Linked DNA regions of Homo sapiens. The protein of the gene in region 7 interacts with the protein of the main gene of each other region in a biochemical or structural test. Each region holds a gene or a part of one and is shown on either strand. Other genes may lie near its edges.

The links.
Region 1: the proteins of TGFB1 (region 7) and PSG1 form a complex in vitro, tested with the Homo sapiens proteins (one study listed by IntAct).
Region 2: the proteins of TGFB1 (region 7) and DIP2A interact in a biophysical measurement, tested with the Homo sapiens proteins (one study listed by IntAct).
Region 3: of the proteins of TGFB1 (region 7) and MMP9, one has a biochemical effect on the other in vitro, tested with the Homo sapiens proteins (one study listed by BioGRID).
Region 4: the proteins of TGFB1 (region 7) and THBS1 form a complex in vitro, tested with the Homo sapiens proteins (one study listed by IntAct).
Region 5: the proteins of TGFB1 (region 7) and PZP form a complex in vitro, tested with the Homo sapiens proteins (one study listed by BioGRID).
Region 6: the proteins of TGFB1 (region 7) and FSTL1 interact in a biophysical measurement, tested with the Homo sapiens proteins (one study listed by IntAct).

What each region holds. Positions count from the first base shown.
Region 1 is NC_000019.10:42,876,914-42,881,111, forward strand, and holds the start of PSG1 (pregnancy-specific beta-1-glycoprotein 1 isoform 2 precursor), read right to left. Parts: upstream 2,801-4,198; 5' UTR 2,669-2,800; coding exon 2,605-2,668; intron 1,366-2,604; coding exon 1,000-1,365; intron 1-999.
Region 2 is NC_000021.9:46,531,891-46,535,390, reverse strand, and holds part of DIP2A (disco-interacting protein 2 homolog A), read right to left. Parts: intron 3,265-3,500; coding exon 3,154-3,264; intron 1,868-3,153; coding exon 1,744-1,867; intron 1,388-1,743; coding exon 1,278-1,387; intron 807-1,277; coding exon 704-806; intron 1-703. UniProt on the Homo sapiens protein: Catalyzes the de novo synthesis of acetyl-CoA in vitro. Promotes acetylation of CTTN, possibly by providing the acetyl donor, ensuring correct dendritic spine morphology and synaptic transmission.
Region 3 is NC_000020.11:46,014,485-46,017,061, reverse strand, and holds the end of MMP9 (matrix metalloproteinase-9 preproprotein), read right to left. Parts: exon of another isoform or gene 2,274-2,577; intron 813-2,273; coding exon 694-812; 3' UTR 501-693; downstream 1-500. UniProt on the Homo sapiens protein: Matrix metalloproteinase that plays an essential role in local proteolysis of the extracellular matrix and in leukocyte migration. Could play a role in bone osteoclastic resorption. Cleaves KiSS1 at a Gly-|-Leu bond.
Region 4 is NC_000015.10:39,587,579-39,591,078, forward strand, and holds part of THBS1 (thrombospondin-1 precursor), read left to right. Parts: intron 1-463; coding exon 464-640; intron 641-947; coding exon 948-1,121; intron 1,122-1,380; coding exon 1,381-1,508; intron 1,509-1,623; coding exon 1,624-1,776; intron 1,777-2,226; coding exon 2,227-2,445; intron 2,446-2,937; coding exon 2,938-3,045; intron 3,046-3,500. UniProt on the Homo sapiens protein: Adhesive glycoprotein that mediates cell-to-cell and cell-to-matrix interactions.
Region 5 is NC_000012.12:9,205,596-9,209,871, reverse strand, and holds the start of PZP (pregnancy zone protein precursor), read left to right. Parts: upstream 1-1,476; 5' UTR 1,477-1,530; coding exon 1,531-1,613; intron 1,614-4,276. UniProt on the Homo sapiens protein: Is able to inhibit all four classes of proteinases by a unique 'trapping' mechanism. This protein has a peptide stretch, called the 'bait region' which contains specific cleavage sites for different proteinases.
Region 6 is NC_000003.12:120,405,993-120,409,492, forward strand, and holds part of FSTL1 (follistatin-related protein 1 precursor), read right to left. Parts: intron 1-3,500.
Region 7 is NC_000019.10:41,336,923-41,340,422, forward strand, and holds part of TGFB1 (transforming growth factor beta-1 proprotein preproprotein), read right to left. Parts: intron 1-3,500. UniProt on the Homo sapiens protein: Transforming growth factor beta-1 proprotein: Precursor of the Latency-associated peptide (LAP) and Transforming growth factor beta-1 (TGF-beta-1) chains, which constitute the regulatory and active subunit of TGF-beta-1, respectively.

The DNA.
Region 1 (4,198 bases), 1.5 Mb from region 7:
GCTACAGACAGACCTCATGTGACCCTGATCTCCCCTTTGTGTTTGTGTGACTCTTGCTCAGTCACTGTGCCTTCCTGTGCCTCAGTTTTCTCTCAATCAAATAAGCTAAATGGCAAATGGACTGTGGCTTTTCATGCTATCTGTGAATAAATGTTAAATTATTCACAGTCACCTGACCTAATGCTTGGCACAGTGGAGGTTTCACACAAACAGCATTTATTATTAATTTGCTTCCATGAGAAAGCACCTTTACGTCAGATCCCTGTGGACAAGCTGCTACCTGGTACATCTTCTCTCTTCTGTTTCTGCTTCTGGGGACATTAGTCTTTCTATGGACTATCCTAAGCCTCCTAAGGCAGTTGGGTGATGGCCTACAAAGCTTGTCTTTCTGTCCTCTCCACTCTGAGTATCAGGTGAAGAAAGCTCTGTCCTGGCCCAGATGAGGCTCTGAGGGCTGAGCCCTGGCTGGTGAACAGCTCCAGGAGACACAGTCCTCTGACAGCTGGTAAATCCTTGGTCCCAGTAAGCCCTGCCCAAGAAGCCACAACCCAGTCCCAGCACAGGCTCCTCAGCTTTATCTGGAACAAGGATTTAGGGACAAGGGTCTGGGGTTGAGGCTTCTAGGGCTGAGCTTCTCTGAGAGTATCTCAGGGGGCCCCTCAGGCCAAGCCCTACTCAGTTATCCAGGGTCTTTCTCAGGGTCAAATTTATGAAGAGGGCATGAGGTGCTTGGCTGAGACTGATCTCCTCCTGCTGAGTCCCCCCATCAGACTGTCCTTCCTCTGCAGCGAGTGTCTGCAGGGTCTGGATGCAGGAAAGGAATTCTGATCTGTTGAAATTTGTCTCCTCTGTGTGTGTCCTGCACTAAATGCCCAAATCCCAGCATGGGACATAACGCAGTGAGTGACACAGGCAGAGTCCAGGCCTGACAATCCTGTGTGTGTGAAGTAGAAGTGACCCCTGTCCCCCAACACCCAGGGATCATGTGGAATCACTTACGGTGTAAGGTGAAGGTGAAACGTCCAGTTACTCCTCTAGTCCCATCATCTCCCTTTATGATGTGTAAGGTGTAGGATCCTGCGTCCTCCCGGGTGACATTCTGGATCAGCAGGGATGCATTGGAATATGCTGTTTCTCGTCCACTATATGCAGGCCCATATATAATTATTTCACCGTCTACTACATATGATGTAATGTAATGGTAGAGGTCCCTCATTTGCCCTTTGTACCAGATGTAGCCGGTAAGATTCTGGGGCAAATTGTGGACAAGTAGAAGAACATCCTTCCCCTCGGAAACTTTGGTTGGCTCGGCTTCAATCGTGACTTGGGCAGTGGTGGGCAGGTTCCAGAAGTTTAAAAGTGATGCTAGGAGGTGGAGAGAACATCAGTCAATATTGAGACCTATGTATTGGTGTGAAAACATGGGGCCCTGGGTCCTGAGAAGGTCTCTTCAGTCCTCAGCCTTGACAACACAGACACACACACACATACAAACACACACACACACACACACACAAAAGCGGCATGTGTGATTGTGTGTGTGTATGTGTGTGTGTCCTACTGTCCTACTAGGTCAAGGTCAGCAGCATGACGCCCATTCCTTCAACACTTCTGACGTTGGCATTTTTCTGTTTGGAATCCTCTTCCCCAGGGGTCCGCATGGCCCCCTCCACAATGCCCTCAGGTCCTGCTTACATCAGGGCATCGTTAGACTTCTTTCCTGATGCCTGCTTCAGAGACCCTGGGTCTTCCCTTTCTGACCTTTCCCTGCTCTGCTCCCTCCAGGGTTCTTGTCAACACCTGACCTCACATTCTAGATCTCTTTGCATGTCTGTCTTCCCCCCCATGACAGCGTGAGCTCCGTGAAGACAGGGACTTTTGTGATCTTGGTTGCACCCCAGTGCCTGGAACAGGCTGCAGACTCCTGTAGATGTGAGAGTTCTCAGGGCCCTCCATGCCCTGGGTGTTTTTTTTCCCCCAATTGTTGAGGTTTCTTGCTGAGGACAGTGTTTCCTGCCCTGTTTATATTTTTATTTGAGGTGTCATCTGCTATAGTTATTATTATCATTTTTCAAAATATGGTGGCCCCTGATGATTAATCAGGAAAACAGAACACTTAAGATTTTCCTACCTCTTACCAATTCCGGTCCAATACGACTTTCCTGTTTTGACCCCTGTCCCTCTCTGGTGTATTTTCCCCTATCCAGGCTCCAACAGAGCCTTCTTTCCTTTTTTTCTTTTTTCTTTTTTTTTTTTTGAGATGGAGTCTTGTACTGTCGCCCAGGCTGGCATGCGGTGGTGCTATCTCAGCTATCTGCAACTTCTGCCTCCCGGGTTCACGTGATTCTCCTGCCTCAGCCTCCCGAGTAGCTAGGATTATAGGAGCACACCACCATACCTGGTTAAATTTTTGTATTTTCAGTACAGACAGGGCTTCACTGTGTTGGCCAGACTGATCTTGAACTTCTGATCTCATGATCCACCCACCTCAGACTCCCAAAGTGCTGGCTTCTTTCATTTTTTAGAACCCCATCCTCTCCAGGAGACCCCATCCAGTCACTCTGCTTCCTCCTCCTGTCCTCTCCCAGGAAGTTCTCTCCTCACCTGTGAGCAGGAGCCCCTTCCATTTGATGCGCTGTGTGCAGGGAGGGGCTGAGAGGGTTCCCATGGTCTCTGCTGCTTGTGTGTTCTCCTCTGTGGAGATAAGCCTAGGATCCAGAAACTCTCTGAGCACGGCTGTCAGCTGTGCTGTCCTTCCTCTTTCTGTGCTGAGCCTCTTCCCAGGGCAGGAGCAATTCTCAAGCTCATGGGCAGGGTCAGGCCCAGGACACCTCTCTGTCCCCTCCTCTCTAAGTCCTGCCTCCTTGTCCCTCCTTCTGTTTCTCCTTTTGTCTGTGTTTCAGGTCCCTGGGAATTGTGGCGGCCTCTGCCTTTTTCAGCAGTGATTCTTTCACCAAACCTCAAGACACACTTTGTGCAGACACACAGACACACACACACACACACACACACACACACACAGAAGAGATACACACAGACCCACACAGTCAGACACATACCCTGCAGGTTGGGCAAGAACAGTCCTGGGCCTCAGCCTCCTGGTGTCCCCATGGCTCTGGGTCGGGGTGCAAATTAACGCCCTTTGGCCTCTTTCATCCCCATCAGGCTCTCCCCTTCAGTGCAGGAGGCTGGAGCTGTACCAGGTCCCTGTCAGAATGATGCCCCATTGTGCTGTGGGTGAGCTGTGTGTTGCCTGGTGAGAGGGACCCTTCCTTTCTCTAATCATGTCTAGCTTGGCTGCAGCTTCCAAGGATGGACATTCAGGACCTGGGTGTCCCAGAGGAAACTGTCCTTTCTGGCGGTGTGCAGGGTGAATCTCTCATGCCTCTTGGGAGGAGAGGCCTGTGCTGGTTGCTCAGTGGGGGCTGTGAGTCCCATAGTCAAAGGGACAGTTCTCTGTCAGTCTATGGCTCCCTGGGGTCTGGCGGCTGAGCTGGAGCTCATAGTTTCTCATGTTCTTCCTGACCATCTTTGATGTCCTCTCTTCTCTGCCCAGCTGACTGTCCTGTGGTCACCACACCTTCCCTGTGGTGGTGCAGGAGGAAGTGGGGAGTTACCCAGGAACCCTGCGGGACATGGCTCATTGAGATGCGGGAGGGGGAGCCTGGGACAGAGCAGGGGTTCAGAGCTGGAGAGATTCATCCCAACTTACTCCGTGGCCATGATGGGCTCAGCCCTCCATATGCTGACATACCCAGGGGTCTGTCCTGATGGTTTTGACCTGGCCAAGCTGCTGTGTGTAGAGGAGGAACAGGCAGTGGCCAGAGAGCCTGTCTGGAGGGACATTGCTCTCACCTGAGAGGGCGGGTGGGGGTGAGTTGTGTTCTGAGATCAAAGAGCAATAACATTCCCCTTCTTCCCGCAAGCACACAGGAGAGGTCTGTCTTCCCAAGGGACAGCTGGTGTTAGGTGGCCACATCCCGGATGGTGCCTGTGTGTGACCATCACACGCGCTCTGAGCCCCCAGGGTGCAGCGGGCAGGCAGGTCACAGGGTGCCTGGCTGATTCCCGGGGAGGCTGTGGGCCCTCAGGCAGCCGCTGTTCTGTGTCAGCGCTAGGCTTGGCCTGGGATGCCCCAGAGAACAGGACAGATGGAGCAGGGGTGGGCATTTAGGGAGCAGTGCCAGAAAGAGTTGAT
Region 2 (3,500 bases), on a different chromosome or scaffold from region 7:
AGTAGTTTTGTTCAATTCTAGTATTACAATGTAAGAAAACTACTGAGTCCATTTTTACAGTTTTTAAAATTGTCACAGTGTACCCCATAAATATATACAATTAGTACTTATCAATTAAATAATATTAATTTAAAGATATCTCAAGTTAAGTATCTGACATTTGAAGTAAATCAGGTGCTGACTATACTTTATCAACAGATCATCTATAACCATAAAGATTCTACTTATATATTTATATCCATGACAGCTGAGGTCAAAACTACAGTCATAGATAAAGTAATAGAAAACTAAAAGTGTTTTCCTCTTTTTGAATGAAAAATGCCCTGACCCTCAGTATGTCACAGAGTAAGCCAGCCCCCCAGGGCAGGCCTGTGAACCCAGCACTGTGTATAAATCAATCAGTGGGATATAGGTTCCATGTTCCATAAAATCAACATCCATGTGCATTTACTGAAAACAACCCTGATGGGGTTGTCTGGACTCTGCTAAGAGACACCGTGTGCCCTCTTGGCCAGCACAACCACAGAGACCCTGTAAGCATGCTAAAGACAGTGCATCTCCCTACCTGGCATGACCCGGATTAATGGGCAAAGGCACTACCCAGGGGTGGTTTTGACAGGTGCAGTGACAGTCACATGATTAGGTACGTCAGGTATCTGTGTGAGGCTGGAGGGGCCACCGCCCCACCCCCGAGAGCCCTTACCTTCTGAGTACCCGCACGCCTGGGTCAGAGCCCGGCACTGTGCCAGCAGGGATGCGTGGGACACTGTGACCCCCACCGTACTGCCTTCTTTGCTGGTTTTATACTGAAAGATTTCAAGGAAAAAAACATGATGTGGTATTTCTAGAGGTGACAACAGACAGAATGGAAACTGGTAGAATCTTCAAAAGAAGAAGTGGTCAGTGTCTCTCCTCTAACCATCGGCCTCTAACCAGCAGCCCAGGTACATGGCAAAACCCTGGCCGCTGAGGGGATGCTTCAGTGGAAGTTGTGGCTCCTCTTGGGCAGGTGCCCGAGGGTAATGGTGCGCCATGGGCTCCCTCATAACTGTCTGCATCCCCAGGGAGCCAGTTAGGAGAGAATTAGATGAGAGAGAAACCTGGAAGGATCTGAGCAAGGATTTATATGACACTCTGTATTTCCAGGGCAGAGATAAAACAAGAACTCTTAGGCCGAAACTTAACAAAAAAGAATAGCAACTTACATTCTTATGAAAAGCAAGACTTAAGCCTGTGGGACATGTTTTTACATTCTCTAAGTTAGGAACAGTCATTACCTCAATGTAGGCAGTCCCAGTCCCTGTGTCCTGGGCCAGAGGGTGCCAGTCCTTTGGGGGCTTGGCTAGATGCTTCCCATCAATCACTAGCCAGGAGAGCGGGGGCCAACCTGTGACACACAGACAGGACACAGAACAGCAAGCAGTCAGAGGCATCTGCTCCCCACACTCGAAGCCTGCGCCTCCAACATGCAGCACTAGCTACTGAGCGAATAAGGAGTGCAAGTTTTAGTCTCATTTCATTTTATATAATTTAAAAAGGTACATCCGGCCAGTGGCTACCACATTAGACAGTACAGGTCGAGACATGAAGCCAGATGAAAACCGAGATTCACCAAGGACTCGAACAAGGGATCACTTTTGCTGAAGACCCAGACACCTCTGTCATGTTTAATTTCTGGAACACCATGCATTTAACACAGACCACAGTCAGAACACTGACTCCCCTTCCCTTGGGAGGCCTCACCTTTGAAAGCTGCCACCTCTCCTGTCTGTGCCTTGGGGAGGCCTTTCTGACAAGCGTCTGTGGTCAGGGCCAAGAAGACTCCACAGCTGCCCAGCAGAAACCCAACCTGCTGGCTGCCTGCATCCTGCAGAAAGCAGAGTGACCGTGTGGGGTGGGGTGCTCACAGCAGCCACAGCCCCAGACCCTTGGTGCTCCAGGCCATGCACAGAGAACAGATCTTTTTTTCATCCCTCATAAAACTTCCAGAATAATTCAGTCCCATTATTGATATATATGATCTTTTCACGGAAATAGTTCATGAAAATGTGACAACTATGTTTAAATTTAAAAGATAATTTTGGTTTGTATTTGTGTTGAAATATAAAGTTTAATGGGCTAATTTCTCAAAGTTTATTCTTACAAATGACATTTAGAAGCATTTTTAATAAACTCCAAAGTTAATGGCATTGAAATTTCTATTGAATCATGTTTGAAATTTACAAATTAATCTAGAGAGGCCTGGTCACCAACGATATTAAATTATTTCCACACAGAAACACATTTCCTTGTAGCCAAGTCTTCTGTGTCCCTCAGCAGTATTCTGTCATTTTCTTCATATAAATTTGACAAATCTCTAGTTTTACTCCTAAGAACCACTGCATTCAAATACCTGCCCATCACATATTATGCTTTGAGATACACTAGTTTGATTTGCAAATTTTACTTTTGGGATTCTTGAATATTTCTGGATAATGCTCCTGTTAACAACTGCCTGAATTCTGGGACAGGATGACAGAAAACTGATTTTCTCAAATTCATGCCTTGTCTATTTTTTTTCAGTAATCATATTATTGATAGTTATATCAAAAATGTTACAGATACCTAGATCAGCAAGACCCCACATTAATAATTTATCAGCAACAGAAACTGCCTACGGTCATATAAGTGAACAGAAATGCAAGATAATTTCCATCTCGTTTATTCAAAACTGCCACTGAGAAGTGAGCTATATCACTGTAATGATATATTTATCCCTAAGAAATAATAATTATTTTCTATAAACATATGGTTTTGAGGAAAAGTTGAACAAAATCTTATTGAATCATAATTCTATTCATTAGAGGAAAAAATGGCTATCATTTCTGTTGGGAAATTCATGTAGATGATAGAACAGCTCCACCTAATAAGAGTGTGGTGTGGGAGCATCACCAGCAAAACGGTTCTCAGTGCCCCTCTCATTAACAAGAAGAGAGGCAGGCAAAACGGCATCTGATTTCTCTTGAGTCCTGGCCAGCCTGTTGACTACTAGCTTTCTCTCCTCTGTCAAAACAGCTGCTTGCTGCCTGCCCACATGAGTGAAAAGGAAGTAAGATACTGCTGGTATCAAGTTCAGAAGCGAACCACACGGGACCTGAGCCATGGGTTTGCTACCTTTCTTGTTAATGGCACTTCTATGGGGACAGGAACCAGCTCTGCCAGGAGACACCCATAAAATGCAACCATGAACATCACAGGGTCACTATTCGGAAACACGAGCGCCACCTACAACAGGACAAAGAAATGAATATTCCAAATTTCCAATTTTTACAATATCTAGTTAAATTAAAAGCTAGTTATAAATAAAATTTTTGTAAGCCCCAAATATTGTAATAATTGTGCTTGAAACCATAAGGGACAAGTCCAAATAGTATTTAACTGAGTAGAGACAGTTGACTCAGGGCCTTTGAGAACACGCAACAATGAATAACCAATAAGTGCTGACTTTGTAAGACAAAATT
Region 3 (2,577 bases), on a different chromosome or scaffold from region 7:
ATTTACAAAGTGCCTAGAACACTATTTTTTTTTTTTTTGAGACGGAGTCTTGCTCAGTCACCCAGGCTGGAGTGCAGTGGCGTGATCTCGGCTCACTGCAAGCTCCACCTCCCAGGCTGGAGTGCAGTGGCGTGATCTCGGCTCACTGCAAGCTCCACCTCCCAGGTTCAAGCCATTCTCCTGCCTCAGCCTCCCAAGTAGCTGGGACTACAGGCGCCCGCCACCACGCCCGGCTAATTTTTTCTATTTTTTTTTTAGTAGAGACAGGGTTTCATCGTGTTAGCCAGGGTGGTCTCAATCTCCTGACCTCGTGATCCGCCTGCCTCGGCCTCCCAAAGTGCTAGGAGTGAGCTACCGTGCCCGGCCTAGAACACTTTCTGGCACGTAGAAAGCACTCTATCAGTTATTTGTTTTTCCTTTTTTTTTTTTTTTTTGCACTCTATCAGTTAAATACATACATGCATACATACGTGCATACATATATAAATAAAGTCTGCTTCTAAAGGTTAGAGAATCCAAGTTTATTAGAAACACTCCAACAAAAAACAAAGGTGAGAAGAGAGGGCCCAGCCCACCTCCACTCCTCCCTTTCCTCCAGAACAGAATACCAGTTTGTATCCGGCAAACTGGCTCCTTCCCCAGGGTTGGTCCCAGTGGGGATTTACATGGCACTGCCAAAGCAGGACGGGAGCCCTAGTCCTCAGGGCACTGCAGGATGTCATAGGTCACGTAGCCCACTTGGTCCACCTGGTTCAACTCACTCCGGGAACTCACGCGCCAGTAGAAGCGGTCCTGGCAGAAATAGGCTTTCTCTGCAGGAGACAGGCAGGCATAAGAGGAGTGATTCTAATTCTCCCACATATACAGAAATAGGAACAAGATCTTGACAACCATCTCTTCTGCCATTTCTAGAACTTTCTAAGGTTTTCACATATCACCTCCATCCCCCCAACCTGTGAGATGCTGTGAGGTTCTGTGAGATGCTGGAGGGCACAGACCTCAGTGCCCAAAGCACTGCCACAGAGCCTAGCACACAGTAGGTACACCATACACATTTTGTGAATGAATTAACAAATGAATAGACCAACTATCTTAATGCTCAGAACAATTCATTCAACGCTCATTCATTGAACAAATCTGTTCATTCATCATTTACTGAGCATCTACTATGTGCTTTGTTCAAGATACTGGGGATAAGCAGAAAAAATGCAGGCATGATCTCAATTATCTTGGTGCTTACACTCTAGTGAGGCAAGAGACAATTAAGCAAACACATAAATAAATGAGATTGGTTTTGAAAATATAGAAAGCGGCTGGGTGCGGTGGCTCATGCCTGTAATCCCAGCACTTTGGGAGGCTGAGGCGGGTGGATCACGAGGTCAGGAGTTCAAGACCAGCCTGGCCAAGATGGTGAAACCCCGTCTCTACTAAAAAATACAAAAAATTAGCCAAGCGTGGTGGCAGGCACCTGTAATCCCAGCTACTTGGGAGGCTGAGGCAGGAGAATCGCTTGAACCCGGGAGGCGGAGGTTGCAGTGAGCTGAGATCGTGCCACTGCACTCCAGCCTGGGCGACAGAGCAAGACTCCATCTCAAAAAAAAAAAAAAAGAAAAAAGAAAAAAAAAGAAAATATAGAAAGCTATGGAGAAAATAAAAACAAGTAAATAGATAATAAGCATCAAAGAAGGCCTCATTGAAGCAATGGCCTTAGCACTGAAACCTGAAGGAAGACAGTGGGATGGCCCAGTGACAATCTGGAGGGGAAGCTTTCCAGACAGAGGGAACAACTGGCACAAAGGCTGTAAGCTAGGAATGACCTTGATCTGTTCAAAGAGCAGCCAGTGTGGGTGGAGCAGAGTAAATAACAGGAGGAGTGGGAAGAGATGAGAACACGGGGGTGGAGTGTCAGATCCTCTTAATTTCTTTGACCTTGGAATTCATCTGGGGTCACTCCCAAGACCATTGCCCTTCACTCCTACCCCCTCTCTAATCTCATGGAATTTGTTAAAGGTCCTGGACAGCCAGTATGGTTTGGGCTGGGGTGTTTATAAAGAAGATGGCAAAAAAAATGACAGACTCGAAAAAGATTTTGGTGGCAGGAAATCTTGTTCACCTTGTCAACTGTTTGGATGTGACTGGTAAGAAAGGGAAGTCAAGTGTAATTCCAGCTATAGTCCCCATATTACAGATGGGGAAACTGAGGCTCGAAGAGTAGAGAAGCAGTGACTTGCCCAAAGTCACAGAGCTGTGAATTGTCTTATCTCTCCCTGTAGCACAGTGCCTGGCACATTATCGGCACTTGATGACTGTTGTCTAATAACTGAGCTTCCATACAAACCACCTGCCGTCCTGTACTGAAGGAGAAAGAGCTTCCAGCCGGGGAGGCAGGAAATCTGGGTCCTGGTCTTGGTTGCATCCCTGACTTCCTAAATGACCTGGAGAAGGCCTCTGCCTCTGCTGGGATCTTGTCTGTGCTGGGGCATTTGTTTCCATTTCCAAGGGCTTTTTCTTCCTCGCTCAGAATTTGACCACTCACTAAGAGGAGCTTAGTGTGGTGTCTCACGAAGGGATCCTCCT
Region 4 (3,500 bases), on a different chromosome or scaffold from region 7:
AAGGGCAGCTCCACAGCATGTATATTAAGAACACGGGTTCTAGGATCTCTGGATCCCAATCCCACTGCTTAGCTGTGCACCCTTGAACACAACTTACCCTCTCTGAGGCTCTTTCCTCATTTGCAACTTGGAGATAATAATAGTTCTTGATAAGTTTATCTTGAGCATTTTATTTAGATACTGCATGTAAAGCAGTTAGCACTGAGTTTTGGTTTATGGTAAGCACCCTGTAAATGTTAGGATATTAACAGCAACCCATAAAAACAGCGAACTTATCCGTTCTCTGGTAGAAAACATTCCATGTTGACATTTGGGCATGTGGCCAGGAGCCAATTTCTACCGTACACTGGGTTTAGTTGCCATTGACCATTTCCTGGAAATACTTCTGCGTGCTCCTGATGGGAGCCTCTATTTGGCTGTCTCTAAGCCAAAACCATTTGTGACCATCAACTCTGTACTTTAGTTAAACAGGATGGTGGCTGGAGCCACTGGTCCCCGTGGTCATCTTGTTCTGTGACATGTGGTGATGGTGTGATCACAAGGATCCGGCTCTGCAACTCTCCCAGCCCCCAGATGAACGGGAAACCCTGTGAAGGCGAAGCGCGGGAGACCAAAGCCTGCAAGAAAGACGCCTGCCCCAGTAAGTGTGAGGTCCGCTGCAAGGGTGAGCATGGGCAGCAGCTCTGCCCAGCTGGTTGCCTGGCATCTGCAGCCTGCAGTTCAGTGGGTCATAGAGCAGGAAGGTTACCTACTAGAGAAACAAACAGAAGCAAAGTCCTGCAGGCTCAGCAACTTCTTTTAATGAAAAACAAACTCACCCTCTTCCCCAGCATTCTTTCCATGTGTCAGAGAAGCAGAGGTTTCTTGAACGGGCTTAGGAGAGTCTATGACAAGGGAGGGATTTGAAAGTTGATCTTAATTGTTGCCTGTGGTTCATCTTCTTACAGTCAATGGAGGCTGGGGTCCTTGGTCACCATGGGACATCTGTTCTGTCACCTGTGGAGGAGGGGTACAGAAACGTAGTCGTCTCTGCAACAACCCCACACCCCAGTTTGGAGGCAAGGACTGCGTTGGTGATGTAACAGAAAACCAGATCTGCAACAAGCAGGACTGTCCAATTGGTGAGCCACGCAGCCCAGGATGAAACGACCCAGGAGCTTTGCTCTTTTACTGAATGCTGCAGTCAGCATTCGAGGAGATTCCAGCTTGGTTAGTCCTGAGCGATTTGATTGCTCTAAGATGCAGGTGGACAACATAATCCCAACAAGTTATCGGTTCCCTATACCCTATAATATCTTACACTGTGTTAAGTGCCCAGCATGGCAGTATGGCAGCTTAGACCAACCATTTACTGTGACTGTCTCTCTCTCCTTGTCTCAGATGGATGCCTGTCCAATCCCTGCTTTGCCGGCGTGAAGTGTACTAGCTACCCTGATGGCAGCTGGAAATGTGGTGCTTGTCCCCCTGGTTACAGTGGAAATGGCATCCAGTGCACAGATGTTGATGAGGTGAGGAACTGATGGGGCTCCGAGTTTCTGGATCTAGGAAAGCAGCTAACCTGTGCAGTCGCTTCCTTATGGCAGTGACTTCTAAACATGATGCACGCTCTTATTTCCTCCATAGTGCAAAGAAGTGCCTGATGCCTGCTTCAACCACAATGGAGAGCACCGGTGTGAGAACACGGACCCCGGCTACAACTGCCTGCCCTGCCCCCCACGCTTCACCGGCTCACAGCCCTTCGGCCAGGGTGTCGAACATGCCACGGCCAACAAACAGGTACAGTCAACTAGACGAGTAAACCAGAGGACAGGAGAGCTGTCCTTGACCAAAATAACTGGGAGCGGGAGGAATGTAATTTCATACCCTTCACCAAAAAAAAAAGGGCGAGGAGATGAATGTACGGTCTAGTTTTAGAAACGTGATTAGAAAATCCATGGTAAATCCTGCAGGGGAAAAACAGTCTTCCATATTTAAAAATGCTGCTCTGGAATAAGTTGTGAGCAGATGGACTTGTAAACGCCTAGGTGCTGAGCAAATTCAAGAAAAATAAACATAAAGCAAAGTTTGCTTATAGCCTCAGGGAGAATGGGGAGGGACAGAGGTAACCCACACTCTTCCAAATGGAGCCTCTGTCTACTCAGAGATGACAGGGATCTGGATTCTTGTTTCCATGATATCTGAGGATTCTCAAAAGCTCTGTGTAACAGCAGCATGGTGTACCCTCAGGTGTGCAAGCCCCGTAACCCCTGCACGGATGGGACCCACGACTGCAACAAGAACGCCAAGTGCAACTACCTGGGCCACTATAGCGACCCCATGTACCGCTGCGAGTGCAAGCCTGGCTACGCTGGCAATGGCATCATCTGCGGGGAGGACACAGACCTGGATGGCTGGCCCAATGAGAACCTGGTGTGCGTGGCCAATGCGACTTACCACTGCAAAAAGGTAGAGCCAGGTCCTTTGTGTGCCTCCAGAAAGAGGGCCCATCACCTTATCAAAACACAGGCTAAGGAATTTTAAATACTTAAAGTTTGGACATGAAACTGAAAGATTAAATCTCCCAAAGGGAGAGGGGCACTAATTCCTATTAAAATTAAATCACTTGGTGCCAAAAACATGAACAGGGCTAGCTCTTTTTGGGCAACTGTGTTCCATAGTCAACTCTTCTGTCCAAAAAAAAGTTCAGTACTCTATCCAAATACCAGCAAAGCATGACTTGTGTTCACAACATCTATAAAGCCTAGAGCATTTACACAAATTCTGTATGTATATCCCCCAAGAAAAGTTTTATTTTCTTGTCTTCCCATAAAAAAAATATGCTGTTACTGAGCCAAATTCTGTTCTTTTTCTATTTGGAATTCCAGGTACACTCCCTCGTGCATGAGCTCAGCATGAGGAAGGCAACTGAAGCAGTGATATATATCTTCTCTTTCCTAGGATAATTGCCCCAACCTTCCCAACTCAGGGCAGGAAGACTATGACAAGGATGGAATTGGTGATGCCTGTGATGATGACGATGACAATGATAAAATTCCAGATGACAGGGTAAAAACAGTTTTCTATCCCTTTTTCATCTTTTCAGTTCAGCAACAGCCTGAAACACTTTGGGATTCAAGGAAATTACATGGCTATAGCAAAAAATATACCAAATCAATACACAGGATAATTAGAAATTATTCATTGTGTTCCAGTAGTTTAAGGATGTAGATGTTGCCAAGAGAATTTTTAAATGAGGGTTTTGTTTTTCATCAGAACTGTTTTTCTCTGTACTTGAGAAATTATAATGCATAAACAAATGCCACTTTGTTCCCTAGATTCATTTCAAATGTCACATCGAAATTACAGTAAAATTGACTTTGGGCACACTATGAACTGAGATGATGGGATTATATTCTACATCTCACTAACTTCTAACCCACAGGGATCCATTTTTTTAACTATGTCCTTTTAACTTTTGTAGTGATCGTTTTACACTGAGTGATCAATTAGCCTATCCACTA
Region 5 (4,276 bases), on a different chromosome or scaffold from region 7:
AATAAGTCTTAAAACCATAATAGTGATGACATATTTTACAATATGTGCATACCACTTATACATATAAAATACAAAACACAAAATTATGCTATATATTATTTACATAAATATGGATTAAAAACATAAACACATCTTGAAGAATACATATCAACTTCCTAATCCCACAACATTGGAAGGGAAATGAGATTGGAGAGAATTACAAAGGAAACTCCAACCATATTTGTCTTGATTTATTTCTTTTTTTGGGTTGGTGGATCTGGTAAAAACTGGAAAAGCTTCTAGACAAATTTTAAAAGAGCACTACCATTGCCATCTTTCATTTCTTAAGAAGAAATGACCTTAAACAAACTTGGCAAGTGTTTAATTTTATTAAAGTTGGGTGCATGTAAGGTACGAGTGTCTTTTATCTTGCTCTCTATATTTGTGAGTATATATATATATAACATTTCATAATTTAAAAGAAATTATTTCATTCTATGATAATGTGACAAAAGAAACAAAGATGTGAAATAAAAACTAATAGGAAGGAATCCACTTTCAGCAGTGTGGCCAGGAATTTGCTCTCCAAAGAAGGGATGATTAGGCTGAAATATGGAGAAAGAGAAAGAAAGTTGATTTAAAAAGTTTCAAGCAATACAGTATGTAAACAGACACCAATGTCTGCAGTCTAAGGATGGCATTAAATCTGCTGGTGGTTTATATGTGATCATCATTGTACTACAAGTTCTATGAGAGCATGGATACTGAATATCCTGTTCAATATTGTATTTTCATCACCAGAATAGCACTTAGCACACAGTATGGCTCAAAAAAAAAATCTCAGATAAAGTCAATGACATGGTTTAAGGGACTCAAACGTTAGAGTGCTCAGACAGTAACAAGGACAGATAGGATCAACTAAGAATCTGATCAGGTCAATGCTGTGAAATAGACAAGTGTGATCTTTGATAACTCCTTTCTAAAATCTCTTTGATCTTTTATCTCTTTTATCTTTCATTGATCCTCTACTCTTGAAATCCTTATTTTATATCACTTTCTTCCAGGACCATGTACTCAATCAACTGCTAAAAAAGAAAACCCAAAAACCCTAAAGTCTATAGTTATAACTCACTCAGTCCCAGAAATGAATCTGCAATGCATGAGCTACTATCATGGTAACATGTCCCTGACATTCTTTGTCAGCATCCTTTGTCACCTGCTTGTAAGGATTTTGAAAGAGATGGAGAAAGGTAGGTTGAAGGTTCCTTATCAGGAGGTTTGCTGTCAAAGCTCATTCTAAATGGAATACAAATTTTATCTTCCAGACATGCCTCAGTACCTATCAGAATTTAGCCTTGAGAAAAATGAGGCAACCACTGAGAGTAATGACCCTTTTAGGGAATCTGTGCTCAATTCTGAACTCTATTCAGAGGCCTTGGGGTGGGGCTTGTTTGTACATAGTGGCCACATAAAGCCTGGTAAACTCAGCTGGTCTCCAGGGCGAGGCTGAGGGCAGAGAGTTGGACACAACCCTGAGATTTATCCCTCACAATGCGGAAAGACAGACTTCTTCATTTATGTCTTGTGCTACTTCTTATCCTGCTTTCTGCCAGTGACTCAAACTCTACAGAACCGTAAGTCTCACTCAAGACCCCTTCCTCCAGAGTGCGTTTCAGTCTCTCCCTTGTGTCTTCGCTTTGCCTTCCTTTGTAAATGCCACCTTTCCACTCATTACAATACCTTCCAAATATAAGAAATTATTCCAGTTAATCCCTTGTTTGTCTTTCATTTATCCTCTATTCTTGAAATCATTTTTTCTACACTGGGCCAATCAGAGTCATAAATACGATTAGTCACTAGGAAGCATGATTAAATAAAACACTAGATCCCAACTTCACAGAACAGTTCTTTTGGATGGAAGGCACTGAATATAGAGATATTCGAAATATATAGTGAAGTGCAACTTAACATGTATTGTAGGCCATATATATATATACAGAAAGTATAGCTCCTTTATTTTTCAATCATGTATCAAGTCTTCACCAACAGCCCCCAGTGGGGGACCAAAGCAGGGAAAATAATTTTAACCCTATCCAGTTGTAAGTTGGTACAACTCAATAATTGTAAGACTTCTTTTCCACCTCTCCCCAGTTCCTCTCCTCTATAGTGTCTAGAGAACTGTGGTCTCCATTAACTCCTAATAGAGAAAACTGTCAGAGTCCTTGGTCTCAAAGTTCTCCGTCCTTCTTGGCTACTGTCAGTCTGACTTCTCCTTACTTGCTGGCATGCACTGTTGAAGTTTAGCCATCTGGTTTCTCTTGTGTGTTCAGGACCCAACAGTCCTCTCTAACTGACTGTCTCACTTCAGCTGTTTCATATCCCATAGAACTCCTACCTTTGCATCCTGCCTCAAATACTATGGCTATTGTTTCAACACAGCCTGTGATGCAGGGTCACCTTGCCCCTTTGCAGTCCAGGCCATTTAAGGTCCCTGGCCTTAACCCAGCTGCCTTTACATTTCTTCCAGAGAATGGTGAGAACTCTTGGGTCCAATAATAGCACATAGGCACTGAGGTGTCCTGGAGAGGTTAAACTTCTACCTCTCTCTTGCATACCCACACTGCACTTCTAGATGCCTATCGTGTCTCCTGTATTCCAGACTGATACAGGGAAGTCTTCAGAGTCCCAAATCGGGAAAGGGATAAGGGGTCCCTCTGCTCTGTGTGTTACCCTTATCCATCTAACACAAATAGCCTTCTTCAGGCCAAAGCGCAGAAAGCAGAAATAAGGAGTTCAATCCAGTAAGTCTCCTGCTTTCCTCAGGCTTTTTCCTTGCACAATTTCCTGGCAACCGGTAGGGGTACATTTCTCCCCCACTATCCCTCTACCTCATCTACAGCAGTGGGCTCTACTACTTCCAGCTGCTCTCCATCCAGAAAGCATATGGGAATATGTGGAGGCTATTTTGCTTTCTGAGAGCAGACTGAATGGATAAAGCGAGTAGCGTGTATTGGGTCAGAAACATTAAGCAATTTGTGGTTCTGGATGCATTCCTACACTACATTGGACCATGCTGCCATTGAAACCATCCTTTTACGTTGTGTCTGCCACTGAACAAAGAACAACAAGCCTCATGCCCTAGTTGTCACAAGCAGAAGGGGTGTTTTCTCCCTTTATAAGGAGAAAACTTAACTTCATCCCTCCAGAATTAACCCTTGATGTGATAAATGTGAGAGACTACAAAAGAGAACCAATAGCCATTCTCCCCTGCCTTGGGGCAGTAAGCTTCAGAAAGATGAAGGTTTCAGGGGAATAAAATGAAAAAGAGAAAATTAAAAGTTATCACTTTAATATTTGCTACATTTAGTCCCTGCTAAAGAGGCAAATATTTAAAATGCAAACATTCATGATTGAGTAAACATATATTAAAACATTTTAGCAGCTCACTACCAATGACATCTTGGGCAAGTTTGTCAACCTGGATTTGTTCTGATTTCAATATCTGTTAAAAAAATATTAACTGAACTCATATAAAATAGTTCTTTAGAATATCAAATATATGTGGAATTAATTTTTAATCGTGATATCTTTTAGGCTTATAATTTATAAGAATAAAAATAGTAAATAAATTATAAATATATATATACCTTCTTATTAAGATCAAAGAACTAAAGGAAAAATTTTTTGATGGGGATGTAAAAAATGATACATTTTTATTATTTATTATGCTGTTAAAAGAGCAGTGATCAGGAGATCAGAAGCATCCAGATACCAGAAAAAGATTAAGACATAAGAGACTAGCTGAATGACTATCAGTGAGTTACTGAACTGCCCTCAGCTTCTCTGCTAGAGAACAAAACCTTACTACTCATACAGTAAAATCATCTGAAACTTGGATGATTTCAGAGTGGCCCTGGAGATTCATGGCATATAGTTTTGCCCAGGAACACTTTAAAACACATGTAGCAAGACTGGTGTGCTGGAGCAGACTACATGGAGGATGAGGGGACCAAATTTGAGTTCCACATTCCACAACTCAATTATCCTTGGATTCTCTCCTCCTAGTCTCACACCTATTAATTTTGTAAAGCAACAATATTGGGTTTCTTGTGTCAAATTGCCTGTCCAGAAAACAATTTAAAAAGTAAGAGTTTATGTTGGCAATGGAAAGTAAGGGTAGTAAAATAATATAAGAAAATAATAGTTTTTACTTGCAAATTTACTCTATAAATGGCCTAACCCTGCAGATATTGAATCATGAATCACTGAATCATTAAAGCTTTGAAGAGTTACATTT
Region 6 (3,500 bases), on a different chromosome or scaffold from region 7:
GCAAGGGATTCTGGAAGAAACATCTATCCAAATTTCTAGATAGAAGGGGAAGATGTAGCTAACAACTCTCCTCTCCTGCTTGCCATGTGTCACAGGTGTTCCACTCTAATGTTGTATAATGAAGGTGTGCATGAAACAACTATTAGGCCTTTGCTTAGTACGTACTTATCATTCTTGTCCTAATTCCTAGGAACAGGTCTCTGATGTCCTTTATTCACTATACAATTTTCCCTGACGAAACTTCCCTGTTTACCTTGTGAAGTCTTGATTAATTAATGGAAAATAATTAAATAAGTTTGGCTGGGGGCCATTGTTAGTAGCACAGGGCTTTCTTGAGTTCAAATATTGCATGTGCTGGGTAAATGACAGCAACCCTCAAAGACTCCAGTGTCATCAGGGCCTGATGATGGAATGAGTGTAGGGAGGGGAAACGTCCAGCACTAGCTACAGACCCAGTGCCACATGGCCCAAGTGGGCACCATGAACCTGGCAACCACAGTCCAGGCAGCTCTCAAAAGGCAGTGCTGTGTACACACACTTCAGTAGGACTAGAATAAGGCCTGCAGCTGGGGGAAGGTCCAGCCCATGTGCTTTCTCAACTCATGAGGGTCCAGTTGGGCCTCCCCAGGCCAGAGTTGTATGTAGAATCCACAGGAACACAGAATTCTGGTGCCTGCCCCAGAAATAGCCTGGAATGCCTGGGGGGTCTGCCTGTGAGGTCCTAATCATGGACCATGAACCAACCTAATTTATTGAGCCTCTCTTCAGCCAGTCAGTTACAAAGACATAATATCTCTCTGTGCCTCTTTCCCCAGCTCTATACAGGTTGATTATCCCTTATCTGAAATGCTTGGGACCAGAAGTGTTTCAGATTTCAGATTTTGGAAAGTTTAAATATGTATAATGAGATATCTTGGGGATGGGATCCAAATGTAAACATGAAATTCATCCCTGTTTCCTATATACCTTACACATATAGCCTGAAGGTAATTTTATACAATAGTTTAAATCATTTTGTGCATGAAACAAAGTTTTGACTGTGTTTTGAATGCTACCCATCACATGAATTCAGGTGTGAAATTTTCCACTTATGGCATCATGTTGGTGCTCAAAAAGTTTCAGATTTCAGCATTTGAGGTAACAAAACTTTTCCTCTATCTAACTGTAGGGTTGTGGAAAGGCAGAAAAGATGTATGTCATGAGATCTGTTCTTGGGGCTTATCAATGTAAGTTTGGAGACTCTTCAGAGGAGATGGGCTGAGACAGGCACTTGCTTGTGCACAGCAGCTGGGGCTGTGTGGGCTGTGGTGCCAGGGTAAAGGAGATAAGAAGGCTGGCTCAAGTGTCAGCCCTGGCCATCAGGAGCCACAGGGATTGAGATCACACCCAGATGAAATTAGGAATGGATTAGATTCCAAATTCCAAGAGCATGGAAGGCTCTTTCTACCTGGGTCTTTCTTTCTTCATTCTGTTACGCTTTCACCTAAGAAACAGTGACTACATCACTGGTTATGGTGAAAGTCAGATTTTGGCCTTATTCAAATTCTAATTCAATTTGGTTTTTGAACAATTTTGATGTAAGAAATGCCAGCTGGGCTGGGGAGCATTTCATTGGTTCATAACAGTCTCTTTGAGATATCAGACCTCTCACCAACAGGCAGCTGCTGACCTAGGAGGAGGCAGTCTCCCTTTGAAGACAGCAGCATGTAAGACTCTGATAATCATCAAAAAGTAGAAAATGAAACCTGTTTTCTCCTGTTAGACACTGCCAGAGTGTCTGGGAAGAGGGGATTTTGTGTCTGTCAGTCATGATCAAGCTTTCTTAGATGCCTGGTTGTGAGAATGTCCTAGAGAAGAGCTACTTTCCCAAAGGGCCTTATAGCTTTCAGAAGGGAGCCTGTAAAAGTGAGTTACTGCTGGAGGAGATGGAGATGTGTTGAGGGGAATGTGGCATAGGTTCTTGGGAATCAAATCTAATAGCAGGTGTCAGTGATGCCTGAGGCAGAGTGCCATCAAAGGGCCACTAAAAAATGGTTACAACGTCCTAAGTGGCCCCTGGGAAGGAGTGTCCTGGGCCCCACACCTCCTATGCTGTAATTGCAGGGCAAAGTCACTGCTCACACACAGCAGGCCCTGCAGGTACCTTTACCATTCGCTCAGCTTTTGAACAGTCACTTTCTTTACATTACTTTCTGTTCCTGTCCAAGTCTCCTGGCTCAGCACTATGATGTGTTTTTCTGTAGAAGAGGAACCATTCTTCCTCTAAGGGCTCTGTAATGTGGGAGTGATTGAGAGAGAGGACAGAGCAAGAAAGGCTGTGCTTTTTCATCTGGGTATGATCTCAAAAACTTGGAATCCAGAGATTTAGTATCTGCCATAGAGGAGAGAAATCTCTATGTAAAAATGACACAAGTGAAGTCTTAAATGACCAAATATCCATTTGAAGCCAACCCAGTATTTCTTCATCTGCGGGTTCTATAGTGTCAGAAAGAGAAATCCACAGACTAGACTGGCATTGGCCACATTAGGTGGCCTCAGAGCTGCCAAGAAAAGTCCTTCATGTGTCTGAAGTTGCTCCTGAGTCCTGGCTGGGTTGGGCCCTGGAAGCATGTGAGGGAGTAGATGGCTGGGGCATCTACCTAGTGAAGAGGGCTTTGGTGCTTGCATGGAAATGTGGGTATCTGAATGTGTCTGCATGTAGGATGTGTCTCTGTGTGGCATGTGAGTCTCTGTATGTGGTGTGTGTGTGCGTGTCTGGCATGTTTTGAGTTTAAGTGTGTCCTTCTCTGTGCTTCTGAGTGTGATATTCTGAGTGTGATGTACCTGTGTGTGTGTCTGTTCTTGTCAATCAGCTGTAAGAATGCCCTTAATTGCTTCTTCTAACTCTCAAGTTCTGTGAAAGATCTGCATGGCATGATAACCCGAGCCATCACTAAATATTATAGCTTCCTTCATTTCTCTTTGTGAAAATAGCATCTCTCCTGCTCCCAAGTGGAACACTCTGTCTCTTCAACTAATTATGATTGGGAACAGCAATATCTAAGTTCAGGAACAATCTCTGGACCCATGAAATGCCAGTCCATTGATTCTTCTCATATGAAGACTCTCTCCAAGCCATTGGCAGTCAAGTTAATGACTTAGAGAAATGTCAAACTAGGCAGGAAAGAGGCCAAAGTGGTCCAGGTCTGGGTGCAATCAGAGGGAATTTTGTATTAACAGCCAGATCCATAAGGTGTCATGGCGAGTAGGGGACAGAGCTTGGCCCTAACTGACAGGTTCTCCAAGACCTTTGTGGCTTTCACTGCCTGAAGGCAGCAGCACATGTGTGTTAGATCCCAAAGACTCCACTGCTTACTCCCACTGATCAAGCTGGTCAGAAGGCAACTTTCACAGCTTCATGAATGATCTATGATGAGGAAACTCAGGGTGTCTGTGCAGGTTTACATTTCCTGTGGTCTGGGAAGGTGTGATCGGGCAATGGGAGGAGGAAGCTTCCCTTT
Region 7 (3,500 bases):
ACATTGCAATTGGTTGATATGTCTCTTAGGATTTTTTTTTTTTTTTAATTTTTGAGATGGAGTCTCACTCTGTCACCCAGGATGCAGTGAAGTGGTGCAATCTCGGGTCACTGCAACCTGTGCCTCCCAGGTTCAAGTGATTCTCCTGCCTCAGTCTCCCAAGTAGCTAAGACTACAGGCGCCTGCCACCATACCCTGCTAATTTTTGTATTTTTAATTATTTATTTATTTTTTTGAGACGGGAGTCTCACTCTTGTTGCCCAGGCTGGAGTGCAATGGCGCGACCTCGGCTCACTGCAACCTCCACTTCCTGGGTTCAAGCAGTTCTCCTGCCTCAGCCTCAAGAGTAGCTGGGATTACAGGGCCCGCCACCACGCCTGGCTCATTTTTGAATTTTTAGTAGAGAGGAGGTTTCACCACGTTGGCCAGACTGGTCTCGAACTCCTGACCTCAGGTGGTCCACCCACCTTGGCCTCCCAAAGTGCTGGGATTACAGGTGTGAGCCACGACAGCTGGCCTGATTTTTGTATTTTTAGTACAGACAGGGTTTCACCATGTTGGCCAGGCTGGTCTCCAACTCCTGACCTCAAGTGATCCACCTGCCTCAGCCTCCCAAAGTGCTGGGATTACGGGTGTGAGCTACCATACCTGGCCTCTCTTAGGACTTTTTTCAAAATCTACAAAATCATCTCTCTCTCTCTCTGTATATATATTCAGGGTCAACTATATATAGACTGACCCTTGGACATGGGTTTGAACTACATGGGTCCTCTTACAAAATTCACCACTTACAGGTGAATTTTTCTTCCACCTCTGCCCTGAGACAGCAAGACCAACACCTTTTCTTCCTCCTCCTCAGCCTACTCAACATGAAGACCTTTATGATAAGCCACTTCCACTCAATGAATGGAAAATATACTTCCTCTTCCTTATGATTTTCTTAAGGACATTTTCTTTTCTCTATCTTATTTTTAAAATGCAGGCATAGGCCGGGAGCAGTGGTTCAAGCCTGTAAGGCCAGCACTTTGGGAGGCCGAGGCTGATGGATCACCTGAGGTCAGGAGTTCAAGACCAGCCTGGCCAACATGGTGAAACCCCGTCTCTACTAAAAATACAAAAATTACCCGGGTGCGATGGCGGATGCCTGAAATCACAGCTATTTGGGAGACTGAGGCAGGAGAATTGCTTGAACCTGGGAGGCGGAGGTTGCAGTGAGCTGAGATCACTTCACTGCACTCCAGCCTGGGTGACACAGCTAGACTCTGTCTCAAAAAAAAAAACAAAGAATACGGCCGGGTGCGTGGCTCACCCCTGCAATCCCAGCACTTTGGGAGGCTGAGGCGGGTAGATCACTTGAGGTCAGGAGTTCAAGACCAGCCTGGCCAACATGGTGAAACCCCACCTCTACTAAAAATACAAAAGTTAGCCGGGCATGGTGGCAGGTGCCTATAATCCCAACTACTCAGGAGGCTGAAGCAGGAGAATTGCTTGAACCCCCGGGAGGTGGAGGTTGCCGTGAGCTGAGATTGTGCCATTACACTCCAGCCTGAGTGACAACAGCGAAACTCCGTCTCAAAAAAAAAAAAAGGGGATATAGGACATAATACATAAAACATGCAAAATATGTATTATTCGGCCGGGAGCAGTGGCTCATGCCTGTAATCCTAGCACTTTGGGAGGCTGAGGTGGGCGGATTGCCTGACCTCAGGAGTTCAAGACCAGCCTGGGCAATACGGTGAAACCCCATCTCTACTAAAATACAAAAAATTAGCTGGGCGTGGCGGTGGGCACCTGTGGTCCCAGCTACTCGGGAGGCTGAAGCAAGAGAATCACTTGAACCCGGGAGGCAGAAGCTGCAGTGAGCCGAGACCGCACCACTGCACTCCAGCCTGAATGACAGAGACTCTGTCTCCAAAAAAAAAAAAAAGTATTAATCAACTGTTTATGTTGTGGATAAAGCAGAATTCCAGTCCACAGTAGGCTATTAATAGTTAAGTTTTTGGGGAGTCAAAACTTGTATGTGAATTTTTGGTTGCATGGGGGGTACGTGTGTGTGTGTGTGTGCTTTCCCCTTCTTTGCATTGTATTTGATGAAGAAACTGGGTGAGGTTTCTTGCAGTCTGAGTTTTGCTGACCATTTCCTCTGTTCCTGTCTTTCTAGAAAACTGTTAGGATCTACAGTCCTGATCAGATTCAGGTTTGATTTTTTTTTTTTTTTCCTGAGACAAGGTCCTGCTCTGTCCTGAAATGCAGTGGCGTGATCCTGGCTGACTGCAGCCACAACCTCCTAGGCTCAAGCACTCCTGCCTCAGCCTCCCAAGTAGCTGGGACTACAGGCACACACCACCCAGCCAGCTAGTTTTTTTGTATTTCTTGTACAGAGGCAGGGTTTTAACATGTTGCACAAGCTGGTCTTGAACTCCTAAGCTCAAGCGATCTGCCTGCCTTGGCCTCCCAAAGTGCTGGGATTACAGGCATGAGCCACCGCACCTGGCCTTCAGGTTTGATTTTTTGCCAAGACTTCCTAGGCAACATTGGGTCCCTCCCTACGGAGGCTGACATGGCTGGCTATCTCCCTTTGTAATGTCAGGAGCTGTTGGCACTCAAGACCTCAATTTGTGGCCGGGCGCAGTGGTTCATGCCTGTAATCCCAGCACTTTGGGAGGCCGAGGCGGGTGGATCACGAGGTCAGGAGTTCGAGACCAGCCTGACCAACATGGTGAAACCCAGTGTCTACTAAAAAAACCAAAAATTAGCCGGGTGTGGTGGCACACGCCTGTAATCCCAGCTACTCAGGAGGCTGAGGCAGGAGAATCACTTGAACCTGGGAGGCGGAGGTTGCAGTGAGCCGAGATCACGCCACTGCACTCCAGCCTGGGCAACAGAGCGAGACTCTGTCTCAAAAAAGACCTCAATTTGTTCATTGACAGCGTTGCTGGGCTGATGGCGCTAAGATCTGGTGGTGAAGGAGCCTGGGAGCAGGGCTGATTTTCTGGCAGGGAAACAGCCGGTAACAAAGCCCAGAGACAGGACCAAAATATTTTAAGCAAGGGAGGAATAAGGTCAGATGATCACTCTAAATTTACAACATTCTAACTCTCCATTTCAACTTTCTAGGAATCCAACATTTCAGCTTTCTTAGATTGCAGTATTAGCATTCCAGCATCTTATGATTCTAACATTCTGACAGCATCTTCAACTCTCTAGGATTCCCCCTTTCCAACCTTTGAGGATCTTGGCATTCCTGAATTCCAGTATGCCAGTATTGCATCCCAACATTCCAAAGTTCTGAGCCATCACTCAAGAGGTTCAAACTGACACTTTCTTTCTTTTTTTTTTTTTTTTTTTTTTTTAGATGGAGTCTCGCATCATTGCCCAGGCCGGAGTGCAGTGGCGCGATCTCGGTTCACTGCAACCTCCACCCCCGAGGTTCCAGTGATTCTCCTGCCCCAGCCTGGGTACCTGGATAGCCGTAATCCCAGCCGAGTAGCTGGGATTAC